Regions from separate parts of the Homo sapiens genome. Here regions 1 and 2 are each linked to region 3. Evidence: fine-mapped expression QTL. A gene starts in region 3. Each other region holds a variant in brackets. All regions are shown on one strand. Distances are between the middles of the regions.

Evidence for each region.
Region 1: its variant is fine-mapped to the expression of DIDO1 in whole blood (INTERVAL, PIP above 0.99).
Region 2: its variant is fine-mapped to the expression of DIDO1 in whole blood (INTERVAL, PIP above 0.99).

Annotation. Positions count from the first base shown.
Region 1 is chr20:62,894,561-62,897,314 of GRCh38, reverse strand. It overlaps DIDO1 (death inducer-obliterator 1), which reads left to right. Exons shown (of 16, transcript NM_001193369.2): 7 at 319-784; 8 at 923-1,082; 9 at 2,150-2,266; 10 at 2,401-2,505. Among named protein-coding and RNA genes, the nearest start is that of SNORA117, 13 kb to the right of the region's middle. The variant C/T (reference allele first, on the strand shown) is at 1,289.
Region 2 is chr20:62,890,195-62,892,948 of GRCh38, reverse strand. DIDO1 (death inducer-obliterator 1) reads left to right here. Exons shown (of 16, transcript NM_001193369.2): 13 at 1-140; 14 at 873-962; 15 at 1,794-1,989. Among named protein-coding and RNA genes, the nearest start is that of SNORA117, 8.7 kb to the right of the region's middle. The variant T/C (reference allele first, on the strand shown) is at 1,393.
Region 3 is chr20:62,924,954-62,927,707 of GRCh38, reverse strand. DIDO1 (death inducer-obliterator 1) reads left to right here and starts at 1,203. Exons shown (of 16, transcript NM_001193369.2): 1 at 1,203-1,269. RefSeq lists enhancers at 1-217, 1,100-1,713, 2,056-2,105, 1,714-2,327 and silencers at 1,016-1,455, 1,526-1,615.

The DNA.
Region 1 (2,754 bases), 30 kb after region 3:
GTCCTTCAGCTTTGAAGCTTAGCTAGTGCGCAAGTCAAGCCTTTAATAACTAGAGTTTGCTGGTTGAAGGTAAAAGATAGAATAATAAAGCATTCTTCTTTCTGAAATAAAATGTAGTCACCGTCATAAATGCTGCTGGCGGTCCTCCCTTACACTCCTCTGAACACTAACATTTTACAAATCCTTTTCTCTATGTGTATCCTATTCAGTAATGCCAGGTGGGCACTTACAGGTTTAAGGGTAAGTCTGCTTTTTAGAGTCAGGTGACAGCACCCTGTGGTGTCCTCCCTTACTCAGCGCCTGTGTTCTTCTTTGTAGCCACGAAGGAAGACAGGAGGTCCGAGGAGAAAGCGGCAGCCATGGCAGCCTCAAAGAAAACAGCCCCTCCAGGCTCCGCGGTGGGCAAGCAGCCTGCACCTAGAAACCTCGTGCCAAAGAAGTCTTCTTTTGCTAATGTGGCAGCAGCCACACCAGCCATTAAAAAGCCACCCTCAGGTTTCAAGGGCACCATCCCCAAGAGGCCATGGCTCTCCGCTACCCCATCGAGTGGTGCTTCAGCTGCCAGGCAGGCCGGACCGGCACCTGCAGCGGCAACGGCTGCCTCCAAGAAGTTCCCTGGCTCCGCTGCTTTGGTGGGAGCCGTAAGGAAGCCAGTGGTACCTTCTGTTCCAATGGCCTCGCCAGCCCCAGGACGCCTTGGGGCTATGAGTGCTGCACCATCGCAGCCAAATTCACAAATTCGGCAAAATATCAGACGCTCCTTAAAAGAGATTTTGTGGAAAAGGTGGGCTGTTCTGCTTGATTTCTTACCCATTAAAATGGAAGGGCTTTCATTAGAGTGTGGCTGCAGGATTGCCTCACTGTTCAAAAAGTTTAATATACACAAGTGTCTTATGTAGTTCCTTTTTTTTATTCTGTTCAGAGTCAATGACAGCGATGACTTAATCATGACAGAAAACGAAGTAGGAAAAATTGCCCTCCATATTGAGAAGGAGATGTTTAACTTGTTTCAAGTTACAGATAATCGCTACAAGAGTAAATATCGCAGCATCATGTTCAACCTGAAGGACCCTAAAAATCAGGTGTGTGCCTGGTGTCGGTGCATTGGAGTATTCCTGTTCTGTTCGCTGGGTGCTAAAGGGATCAACCAATATTTTGAGATGTTCGTGTCCTTTCCAGGAAAGCTAAGACGTTTCTTTCTCCTCTGTGATCCTTCTGCCGCCCACGTATTGTTGCACTGGCGTTGAGCGTCCTGGAAACCCCTTCCCTTCCCTGCCTTAACTAGGGT[C/T]GCGTCCGCTTCCTGGCTTCCCTGAAGTCCACCTTTTATCACCACATTAGTCTCCTGTAAACATTGCTGTAAAGGTACAAGCCAGTCGCTTCACTGGGCTCCAAAATAAAGTCCAGTTCTTCATCCCAGTGTATGAGGGTGTCCGTATTCCGGCCTCAGACAGCCTTTTCCACCTTATTTTCTCATATTCCTCATCAGCCGAGTGAGCCTGATGGTTTGGGCTGCTTGAGTTCTCACCACTTGGAGCAGGGGCTGCTCACGCCCAGGTAGTGGGATCAGTCCTTCCTCACTGCAGCATGGGCCATGCGACGAGGACAGAAACTCCAGCTGGGAGGGATAGGCCGCCGGGCTGACAGCCTTGTGGTGTTCTCTCTCCATCGGCCTCCAGGCTCCTCCCTGTTTAGAATTTTAGGATAATGAAATACCCTGACTTTGCATCTCACCATTGAACAGCCCTAAACAGAAATGATTTCTTCCTTCCTTTGTTCCTGACGCTACCTTTTTGACTTGTGTCCACCTTGTGTACATAATTGTTTTTCCTGAGGTGTTGTGTGTTGTTTTTTTTTTAGCAGAGCCAGTGCAGCACAGGCCGTGAAACCCACTGTTGAACCTTATTACCTGTGCTCTCTGGGCTCCCATTTGCTCACAGCAGGGATATCCTGGGGCGCACTCTCATAAGGCCGTTTGGGGAGTTAGGTCACACCCTGCAGGGAGGGCTCTGCCCAGTGCCACACGCAAGTGGGCCCTGAGGGCCTTTGTCCTGTGCCCGCTAAACTTCTGGGCAGCTGTGTTTTCCAGAAGCTCTCTGTATTGACAGATATAGGAATATTATTTGAGTAAATGAAAAATACTTGTTTATAGGGACTCTTCCATCGTGTTCTGCGTGAGGAAATCTCTTTGGCGAAACTTGTGAGACTGAAGCCAGAAGAACTTGTATCTAAAGAGCTTTCCACGTGGAAAGAGAGGCCAGCGAGATCTGTGAGTGCTGAGGGGTACCTGCGGAGGCACCCAGGACTCGAGCTTAATAGAAATAAATTCATAGACGGCTGCATAAGCGATGCTTTCCTCCTAGAAAACAAGGCCTAAGCTCTGTTTCGTCTTTTTCATTTCAGGTGATGGAGTCCAGAACTAAACTGCACAATGAAAGCAAGAAGACGGCCCCCAGGCAGGAGGCCATCCCCGATCTGGAGGACTCTCCGCCAGTGTCGGATTCAGAGGTAAGCATTTGGGAGATTTTGTGTTCACCGAGAATAGACTAATCCATCCCAAATGTTTTGAGGTTATCTTAAATTATTGGGCAGGACCTGAGCTTACAGCAGGTGTATGTCATTGTGGCATTCCTCAGTCCTTGTATTAGATGGTCCTTTTTTCTCCCCCGTGGGTCTCAATCCCATGAGACTGCTTTTCTTGTGTGTGGTTAATTTGGAGCTGAGTTTGGAGAAGAAACGACCTCACTTTTTTTTCTT
Region 2 (2,754 bases), 35 kb after region 3:
GTTCCCCTCCAGAGGGAGACACGACCCTCTTTTTGTCTCGACTCAGCACCATTTGGAAAGGATTTATTAACATGCAGAGTGTGGCAAAATTTGTCACTAAGGCGTATCCTGTCTCTGGGTGTTTTGATTACCTCAGTGAGGTTAGAACCAAGAAAATGTGTGTGCGTGTGTGTGTCTTTCATAGGAGTTTCTAAACTAGAGTCAAACACATGACTTTCTCCCTTAATTCATGAGGTAGGAGAGAAACAGAAATGCCTGACACTCTTGCAACCGTCTGTCTGGATGCAGAAACGGCTCTAAATGCAAAGTGGCGATGGCCGTGATGAGTCCGCAGGTTCAGCAGTTTGGACAGGGTCGGAAATGTGAGCCTGCAGTCTGGCCTCTCAGTGATCGGTTTCGCTGGGGCACTGACCACATGGCTGTGCGCACAGCCACCGGCACAGCCAGGTGTTCGGAGCCTGCTTTACACACACCTGGCCACTTGCGGGGTGGCGCATATGACCCCGTGGCAGGCCTTTTAGTTTTCAGAATTAACCAGAAGACAGCACTAGCATTTATGACTTTAATGCAAGGAGTCACCCTGGCTCATAGTGAATCGTTACTCTCTGTGTATGTACGTAAAGACAGCATAGAAGTGTTGGGCAGTCATTTCTAAACATAATCTTGTCTGGCAGAAGGTTGGCATCACTCCCCCTTTGGATTTGGCCACTTGTCATCCTGGACTTAATGCATTTAATACAAGTGTGACTCTTTTCCTTGGAATAGCTGTAGTCTTCTTGAATCTTGGGTAGTGTGTGCCTTCACATGGCTGCATTCGTCTTTCTGTGACTACTACAGTTCAAAGTGATTTACGCAAAGTACTTTCTGTTTAGGATTTGCCTGACACAATTCACATTGGTGGGAGGATCGCACCGAAGACAGTTTGGGATTATGTTGGCAAACTCAAGTCTTCTGTGTCTAAGGTACCTGCTTATAGTATAAATTCTGCAACCATGGAAAATTGTGTTGATTTAAACACATCTTTTTTTAACCTCTCGTTTGGATGGGTTAACACTTAAAATGTTAGCCTGTAGCTTACTAGATATTTCCAGGTGAATGTTAAAAATTAAGTTTTGCAGTGAGCCGAGATCGCACCACTGCACTCCAGCCTGGGAGACATAGCAAGACTGTCTCAAAAAAAAAAAAAGTTTACATAGTTGTATGACTGTGTGAAGGTGTCTGAGTGTGCCGCGGTAGAAGTTTGTTTCTGATTTATTATAATGTATGTGCGGTTAAATTTTAGGAAGAAATAGATACGTTTTATTTTCTTGTTTTTTTATGATTGAAGGAGCAGAAGGTGTCTTTTGCAGGGGTGATCAGGCTCAGGGCACTCAACCTGGGCTCTTGAACGGT[T/C]CTGGTTTTCTGGGACCCCCTGAGATTTAGCTACAGCTGTGCGTGTCTGTCTGTGGTTTTCTCTGGGGAATCTCTGTAGTCTTCGTCAGGTTCACGAAAGGGCTAGACCCTGTCGTCTAGTTTAACCCCCTCTAGGGAGGGGCACAGACAGCCATTGCAGATCATGCAGCTGGTTCCTCGTGACCGGGGCCGTCGTGCATGTAGGAAGAGCCGGCTCGGCTCCAGACACTGCTGGGCTCACATGTCACGTGAATTGCCTCACTGAGACAGCAGCTCTGTGAGATCGTGGCTGTGAGTCGGAGAGATCTGACAAGGTTTCCTGTTGAAAGCAGGATGTGAATTGGGCGTGTGATGCTTGAGCCACATTTTCTTTATGAGTGCTTCCCACTCTTCCATTGCAGGAGCTCTGTCTGATCCGCTTCCACCCCGCCACAGAGGAAGAGGAGGTCGCCTATATCTCTCTCTACTCCTATTTCAGCAGCCGTGGCCGCTTTGGTGTTGTAGCTAATAACAACAGGCACGTCAAGGACCTCTACCTGATCCCGCTGAGCGCCCAGGACCCTGTTCCATCCAAACTCTTGCCCTTTGAGGGACCAGGTAAGCGCCGGCTTTCTGGGTGGAGGTGAGGCCCACCTGCACCTGCACCCCTCCTCCCACTGACATGCCCTGCTGAGTCCTGACCAGCCCAGGGCTCTCTGGGAGCAGGAGTTAGGAGCACAGACGCAGCGGTTAGCAATAGGATTCATCTTTGAGGGCGTAGGACTGTGGCACGAGAAGTACCCCTGATTCACAGCATAAATTGTCTTAGGAGAGTTTTTTAGAGAGGGAAAAACCCACAGCCTGCAACCAGCTCATCTTGGCCTCAGGTCAGAGAAGACTCAGTGCCCAGAAGCCCAAGGCTCAGCCAGAAAGGGAGGTGACACTCCCAGCGGCCCTGCTCTTTCCTCTAGACAGACTCGGGAGCCAGCACACACCGGGAAGTGGCTCCATCAGGGATCACTTCTCTAACAGGGATGGATTTCCAGGAGACTTAACAATAATGACATAGAAAACTATTTCTAGAAATAATTATTTTAAAATCTGCAGCTCAAATTGTAATAGGTTCATTCATCTTTGGCAAGCTATTTTGTGTTTGCACGTTCCTTGGAAAGTACTGTATTTAAACGATTATTTACAAATAGCCTAAAATACATCTTTGTCAAGGGTTGAGGGTGATTCCAGGGGCCACGTGCTCTGTTAGTGACCAGCTCTTTCATAGCCCCTTAGAAGAAGCTGATGTGACTTCAGTTAGGGGTTAGTATCTGATGCCCAACTGAAGTGTCTCCGTGGCCATGCAGTCCCCAGAGGATTGGTGTTCTCTCA
Region 3 (2,754 bases):
AGCCCCTGGTTCATCCATGGAAGCATCGCAGAAGCCTCTGTATTAGGGGCAGCTTTACGGCACTCTGGGCCCCTTTTACTCTTGGCCAGGGCCAACGCCAAAGGCTAGATGGTCCATGCTTCCAGGTAGCGTATCACTGTTCACAGAAGCAGAAACAAGTAATGGGGCCACCTCCACCCCCCCCAGGTCCCTGCCCTCGGAGCAAGTGGCCAGTGCCCATGGTGCCTCGAGGCAACAGCTGCCCCTCCTGCCCCCTCCCAGTCTCTTTCCTGCAGTATCTGGGGACAGACAGGTGATAGAGTGTCACTCTAGTTACTATTGAGCGAACTGAAGAAAATCCACATGGAAGGTTGACATCTACCATACCTCACTTTCCCCTCTCTTGATAGTAAGTGTCTAATCTTTCCCTCCAACCCCTGTGGGCAAACATGTCCATGCGTTCTTTGAGTTCTAGCTACTGGTCAGTAGTTCTGAGTGTAGGATTGACATGGTGGGAGGAGGCAGAGCTTTGGGACCACACCGCCAAGGTCCCTGGGGCCTAGAGGTCCAGCGTGCCCGCCTCCCTTCCTCGCTGTGCTCCTTTCTCTCCCCCCCACCCCCACGCTCCTGGTTTCTGGAGCCGAGCTTGGGGTGGGGAGGCAGCAGGTAGGGTCTTCAAGTTGGAGAGAAACCCCGCCCACACCTGGACCTCGCCCCTCGCTGCCATTCCCAGCCGAGGCCGTCAGGGGCCTGCGTTTTGAGAAACACAATCTGGAAGAGAAAACCTGGGCCTTTTCTTCTTTTATCCCCTGTCCCCGCCCCCCTACACCTCTTACAAATTTAGCCCAGGAGCTTTCTATCCCCACCGACTTGAAGGGTTTATCGGTCTTAAGAGCGAAATCCTGGCGGAGTGCAGTCCCTCGGGGCTAGCATCCACGTTCCGCCTGCGCCCTGCCCGGGCTGTTCCGAGGGATCCCCGCAAGGGCACTGCCCCAGCTTTCACTCTTGGAGTCGGGGAAATAAGGTGTCCACAAAGGATGCAAGCAAGTCATTGTCAGTGCAGACCCGAAGGGCGCGTCCGGAGTGCAGGTATGAAAGACGGGCGCATGCGCGCAGTCCGGGGCCGGGCTTCGCAGCCCGGGCTCCGCTCTAGCCCCGCAGCGTCTCGGTGGCCGGTCTCGTCCTCCGCCCGCCGCGCGGGGGCGCCGCTCTAGCCCCGCGCCATCTCGGTGGCCGTCCGCCCACTCCGCGGCGTTCGGGGAAATGGCTGCGAGACCCTAGAGGCCTGCGGCCTGCGGTAAGTGGCGTCCCGGGCGCCGGGTAGAAGAGCCGGCCGCCGCTTGGGCCGCCCTCGGGAGCGGGGCGGGGCCGGCATCGGAGCCCGGCTGGCGAGAGCCGCGGATCCCGCACAGGCCGCTCCCGCCGAGAAGATGGCGGCCGCGGAAGGGAAGGAGCGGGCGGGCGGGCGGGCGAGCGGGCGGGGCCGGTCAGAGCCGCCGCGGCCTGGGGCGCGGGCCTCAGACGCCGGCCCTGGTGGGCTGCGTGAGGTCGAGGGGACTGGCGAGCACTCGGTGGTCGCGGCTGGAACGGTTCCGAGGGTGGGAGTCGGGGCGGCCGCTCGCGGGGAAGAGCGCAGGGCTGGCCTGGGCGAGTGCGGCCCGGGGCTCGGGGGCTGCGTAGCTGGCTTGTAAGCGCAGCTGGTTTCCCTAGGCATTCTCGGGGACCTCGGCGCTTCCTCCCGGGCCTTGGGTGCGGTCGGGGTGGCCGGCTTAGCTTCTGGCGTGCCTTCGGGGGATTCCGGCACTGCAGGGGCGGCTGGCGCTGCAGGAAGCGCGAAGAGCCCGGATTCGCTTTTCTGAAGAGTGTGTCCTTACCTCCCCGCGCTGGTTTTCAGTTTTTTTGTGGAATAGTTTGTTGCGTTGGTTTGTACTGGCCGTATTTGTGACACATTTTGCCTTCCAGTGACCCCGGAAGCCGAAAGGGCCCGCTCTTGCGCTCGGCGGGAGGGGTGCTCGTGCTGCCTCCGCTGCGGCGTCCGGGGCTCCTTCTCGCGGTTCTGAGACAGTGGAGGTCAAGGCCGGCTTTTCTGCTCTAAATAAAGGACTTTAATATATAAGTTTAGAGTTTGGGCCACAGGTAGCAGTAGCTTACTGCGTTACCAGTTATTGAAAATACTCTTTAACTTGTGCCTGGGCCTTCGATATCCGTGTCATCTGTCTGCTGATGGAATGAGATTTGAGCCTAGTGTACTCAGGGACTTAGAGGAGGGAAAGGCAGATGGGAACGTCTTTTCGGTATATTCACATAACTTTGCTATATACCCCGTGTTCCATGGTTTCCGTAGGGCCACATATGACTTGGTTGAAATACAGTTCTGAGAAAGGTCCTTAGCAGTGCCTTTTAAGGAGTAAATACAGTCTTTTTTTAAATGAGCATTCATTGCTTACTGTTAGCACGAGGGATACAGCAGTGACCAAGGTGGCCCCTGTCCCAGTCCTGGAGACAAGTTCACTGGGGAACTTGAGAGATTATTCCAGCTCCTTCCTTTAAATCAGGTGTTGCCAACTCGTTTACCTGGAGCCTAGGGCTCTTTAGTGGCCCTTTGGGTTGCTGTTAGTGTATGTGTGTCTGTGACTATTTCACTATTTTAAATACGGCATAGACATCTCAGAAGTGTCACCCAGGAAGACAGACACAGCCCTGTTGTGAAACTCCCTGCTTAATGCACACTTGTTTTCCTACTTGCTGTGTACATGGGGAGGAGATGTCTGTTCT